Linked DNA regions of Homo sapiens: region 1 is linked to region 2. The links come from fine-mapping of genetic effects on gene expression. Tissue or cell type: minor salivary gland. Region 2 holds a variant in brackets; the other region holds the start of a gene. All regions are shown on one strand. Distances are between the middles of the regions.

The links. PIP is the estimated chance that this variant, and not a neighbour inherited with it, causes the effect.
Region 1: B3GAT1-DT starts here. The variant in region 2 is fine-mapped to the expression of B3GAT1-DT in minor salivary gland (GTEx, PIP 0.94).

What each region holds. Positions count from the first base shown.
Region 1 is chr11:134,435,312-134,438,074 of GRCh38, forward strand. B3GAT1-DT (B3GAT1 divergent transcript) reads left to right here and starts at 1,171. Exons shown (of 6, transcript NR_033852.1): 1 at 1,171-1,473.
Region 2 is chr11:133,479,880-133,482,642 of GRCh38, forward strand. All of the region lies in intron 1 of OPCML (opioid binding protein/cell adhesion molecule like), which reads right to left. Among named protein-coding and RNA genes, the nearest start is that of OPCML, 51 kb to the right of the region's middle. The variant A/G (reference allele first, on the strand shown) is at 1,155.

The DNA.
Region 1 (2,763 bases), 960 kb after region 2:
TGATTTCATAGGGAAGCAGCTGGGATGGGGCAGAGGAGCGAGAACTAGGATGTCCCATATACAATACAATTGCATATTGGACATACAACCCAGACAATTCCTTCTTCTATCAAATCCACCATCCTGGAGAGTAAAGCTGAAAAGCTGATGACATAAAGTCTGTCTGGGATCAGGCATGATTCTGCGTGCCCAAATGGAGCACAGATCCCTTCCTTCCCAGGGTTCCAGGCTGGCTCCTCAGCCAGGCTCATGGTGTAGGGAGCTGGTCTTTCTTGGCCCTCACTGGGACCTGGCTGTCCATGAGTGGGTGGAATTCTGAAGCCTACCTCTTCTGGATCCCTTTGGCTACATCCTTTATTCATGGGCCATGCCCTTCCTTCAAAGGCTTCAACCTCACACAGATCTGGGCTAGAACACGGGCTTGCCCCATATGTCTTGACAGCTCACCGAACCTTTCTGAGCTTTTATTCTCTTACCTATTTAATGAGAGTGGTGTGTGAGGGTCCACCAGGTAATCTGAGTGATGCCCCTCGCTGCCTCTGTCCCCTGGGGGTCATTCTGCCCAAAGGGGTGCATAGCGTCAGGACCACCAACTCCTCCCAGAGCACTGAGGTCCCTGCTGCCCAGTTAGTGGGTCCCAGGGAAGCCACGTGGCATTTGGAGTGGCATTCCAATCTTGCACTTTCAGGGCCCCCTCTGTGGTTCTGAGAGGAGGAAACAGCTCTAACCTTGGTGATCCCGACTGTGCTGGGCCCTGGGTTGTGAGGCAAATGGAGGGCAGAGGCCCTGGGGGAGGACACGTCCCTCACCACAGTCACTCCCCAGTGCAGCAGTCAGGGGATTTCCCAGGGTGCACTGGGCCAAGGGGCCAGACTCTGAAGTTCATGGGGTTAAGGTCTCCCCGCCAGCCAGGTGACGGCAGCCTCCTCGCCTTGCCCAGACAAGAAAGCCTCGATCTAATCTCACTCTGAACTTTTCCCAAGGCTTTTGCTACGCTTTGCTGTAGCTCCAAAGCCGCATTAGTGAGCACCACGCTCCTTTATAAATGGTCTGTGACCCCAGAGGTCTGCTCGCTGAGGGAGCTGTCTATTTCGGGCATTGTGGGTGGAGGGGGCATCTCAGAGGCTTCTGGAAAATTCCTGATGGGATTGTGTCTGTGTTCTGTCTCAAGCCTCCAATCAACAGATCAGACAGCTTGTACTCACAGGCCAAGGACACGTGGAAAGAGGCTCAATTTTCTAGATGGGTGGCAACAGCCATGATCTTCTGTCCTCTGGGTCCCCACAAGCCTGGATGAACTCAAGATCTGACTCAGTGGCACAGTGAGGAGACCTTTGAGGCCTCAGTGACCATCCTTGGACTTCACCTCTCACGGCTTTCAGGCAGAGAGGCCCTCCCATGCCCACAACAGGCTGAGCCCAGCCTTCCTCGGGGTTTGCTTCCAGGCCTGACTTTTACTCCCCTTTCTAAGTGGTAAGTAGCTTGGTGATGGTGGCTGAGAAAGAAACAGAGAAAAAACATACCTTACAGGCAGAACTGTCATAGTTCTCAAAAGACCAAAGTCACAAGGGCCTGTGGGTGCCTGCACGGCTGCCCAGAGGGAGGGTGACGCCAGCCACAGGCCCATTGCCTTTGTAGGCCAGGGTCCTGCAGTGCTGGCCCGCAACGCTTGATGGGAGGGGGCGGCTCTGTCTACGTGTGAAGAGCCCAGGGTGGCTGTAGCTTGCAGCGGATGGCATTCTCAGTTTGCCCGTTACTCCCCAGACAAATCTCCCTCTGGCCCCTTTTCCTTTCTGTCTTCAGTGGGGGTCGGGAGGCGGCAGCCCCAAAGACCTCTCCTTACCACCTTGTCTTTCCCATGGAGGTTCCCATGCAACACTTGTCCCTGTCCCTGAAATTTCAGACTTCTTTCCACAGCGCAAAGCCTCGGGCCTTGAGAAACTGCAGTGAGCAAGGGGAACCTCACCCCCAAGCTAAGGCAAGAATGCTGGCTCTTCCATCGCTCCTAAGTTCCAGGCTGACCTCTTCCTCCAACTCAACATATTCAAAATGAAACCCAGCGTCTTTAGCTCACCCTCCTTCCCCGCTGCCCCTGCCAGGGCCATGGCCACACTGACCCACACCCCCCGGTCACACCTCCAGGCCTGGCAGTAATATTGCCTGGACTCCTTGAGAACTGCAACCAGATTAATCGTCCCAGAGCTCCGCTTTGATAATATCACTTTTATAGACACATGAAAGGAAGCATTTAGGCAGTCAGTCATGCTAAATCTTAACCACCTTTACAGATTTTTTAGTGCAGCCCATCAAAATTGTCACCAGTCCTGAAGGTCCCACATTTATGGTGTCCATGATAACACCTCCCATGCCAGAGGCAGCAGCACTTGGAGGTGGTGCAGAGCTGGCACTGCAGGAGCTGTCCTCGCCAGGCCTGATCTCACAGCCAGGGCTGCTTCTCCTGGTTCCGCACAAAGCCCATGGTGACCTCCTGCACCTCCCACTCCAGAGGCATAACTGAGCAGTCTGTCTGGGCACCATCAGCACTCCTCTGCGAGGTGACAGATTACAGCTCTAAAGATGTTGGGCCGTTAGGCATTACCTTTCCAGTCGCTGGGTGCAAGGGGGCCTGGGAGTCCTTGGCAGGGGCTGGCATGGGCAGGCTGGTCGGGCTTCAGCAGCAGCTGTGGGCCAAACAGCATGGGAACAGTTGTACCAAGGCAGAGATTGGACTAGAGGGGAACAGGAACAGGACCAACAGTTTTG
Region 2 (2,763 bases):
GGCCTGGCCTTCGAAGAGCACTGATCTCTAAGCTTGCCTTGCTAATACCACCTGCTTTCTGAGCACCACCCAAGGAGCCAGCCCGGGAGGCTTGTCACCTCAAAATCAAGAAAAAGGGGAACGTTTCTAAAAGGGGCAGTGCCTAACTTAACCAATTTCTGCACACTCATTCTGTGGACCCCAATCCAAGACACACAGTGCTCTGGGCTCCCCACTTTTTCCTTCTTAGAGCAGGCATCCCAGCACATCCACCCCTTCCCTTCCCTTGATCGGATGGCTTGGTCTCAGTCCTGATCTCCTACATCTACAGCTAACCCATGCTTGCTCATCCATTCACTGGTGATCTCTTGCCCTGAACTGGCTCTGTTGAATCTCTCACATCTCATGAGGTGCTATTATCACTGTATTTATTTGACAGATGAGGAAACTGTGGTCCGGAGGGTTGCCTGCCTTGTCCTTGTTCATGTAACCTGGAGTGGTAGAACCAGGCTTTGGCCTTGCTCTGCACCTCGGCATCCCACTGCCTTCTGCTTTTTCTGAGTTCAGTGAGTGTGTGCTCGTCCCATCCTTACCAGTGTCCAGGGCCTTCTGCCTTCCACTTGCTCGCCACGTGACTTAAGAGCCACAGTGTCTGGTTTATGATCTGCTCCCTCTTTGAGACTTGAACTATGCCCTCAGGCAGCATCACTCAGGCTCTTGTTCTGACTGTAAAATCCTATCCATTCTCTACCAGGTCTGGATTAAACCTCCTATCATGCATGAAACTCTTTCTGACCCCTTTTCTGTAAAACACTATCTCCTTCCCCTGAAACCTTGTTGTGCCAGCTAACTGTCTTGTATTATTATGCATCTATTCCAGTGCCATCCATATCTGACTTTCCTAAGTTGGAGATAAACTGCTTACAGAGGATCATGCAACATTTGTATTTTTAAGCCCAATGGCATCTACCATAGAGCTTTGCCTGTAGTTGATACAATACTGAATGGGATGACTGAATAATCTGGACCTAAATTACTTGCTTTGTGTATGAAGTCTCACTTCTGTGTCATGCTGGAATTATTTTCCACTTAATTACATGCCATGGCACCAAGAATGCAAAGGCTTTTGTTCACACTGAGTGGGGCCCAGGCACTTGGGGGCTCTGGCCAGGCCT[A/G]TGTAGACATAGGTGGCAAAGATAACTGAAGAGATTACTTAGATGAATAGCTCACCAATGCTAAATAATTTTATCGAGATTAACCATATATGACTGTGAAGTTGTAACACAAATTTGGGACCAGGATTTCATCATGAAGCTAATTCAATTTGAGACATTCATTGAACAGCTTATAAATACAAAAGTACACGAGGCTGCCTCTGTCCCAAAAGAGTTTACAATCAAATATAACATTAGAGCTTAAAAGACCCTTAAATAATAAGAATCTAATCACCTCATTTTACAGGAGAGAAGAGTCAAGCCCAGAAAAGGGAAATTACTGATCAATGGCCACACAGCTTCCCAGGGGCAGACACAGTATTAGAGCCCAAGTCTCTGCCATTGTACCATAATTCTTCTCCCCAGTTAAAAAAATAAATAAATAAATAAATAAATAAATAAATAAATGTATGTATGTAACTGTGGCTACAATTTTAGATAGAGAAAATAAAATGTATTCAGGCCATCCATGGGAATTATTTTGTAGCAGAGGTCCACAAAAGATCATGTATCTTAAATCAGTGGTGAAATCCATTGTTTATTGATAGGTTTTATTCCACTATGAAAAATAGGCTATGACTACACTAGGTGCTATATCAGAGGTCTGTCTGAGTTAAGCCTCGAGAAACAGTTTAAATTTACACAGGGTGAGATGAGACAGAAAAAAAGGGGGAAAGTTAAATGAAATAATGTGCAGGACAGTGTTCATAACCTTTAAACAAAACTAATGTAAGGTGTTGACTATTCAACGGGATGGAGGAGTACAGGAAGGAGGGATGGGACACTGAGGCCCTTCTATTCCAGGGATGGCAAGTAAAATGGACCGACCTAAAGGTCTGATTTCTAGGAGATGAGAGAGGAAACCTGAGGTCAGAAACCTAATGGGCTTCGAGTGTCATGACAAGGAGTCTGTACTAAAGAAATTCCAAGTGGTGCAGTCTCCATAAAGCAGAAACCTGGGCACTTAGAGGAATCGGAATCAGAGTAAAGCAGATAGCTCTGTCACTAAGGCACAGCCTTGGAAGTGGAAGCAAGGAAGTCAGAAAAGCACAGTAACTGAAAATTCAGGGAACCCTGAAGCTGGGTTTTCAACTCCACACAACTCATCAATATAGATCAATGGTGGTGAGAGGAGTCACAGATATTTGGGAGGACAATGATGCCAACGGTGTCATCAGTGACATGGGAAGAGAACATCTGAGAGGAAATGGGAGTTTGAAATCAGACGTCCTGCATTTGAGGCAGCAGACAACATGGAGTTAAGGGTGGCTAGCGAGGTGTTCCTTGTTAGCATATCTGGTTCACCGGTTTCATACGGGAAAGCATGGGTTTTACAAATTTACAACAGCAAAAATATCAACAATGTCTGTGAAAAGCCCCTGGAGGATCTGGGTGCTGCCTTACACCTGAGTGGGAGGGAGGGTAGGCAGTGGCCACAACCAGAAGGGAGGGTGGCCGGGGCATGGCAGTGAGGGGTGAGTGGGAGGAGGCTGCTGAATGCTCCTGTTACCTCTGTCCCATCTCACCCTTGAGCAAAATGAGCCTGTTCTGTCACCACTGAAATCAGCTA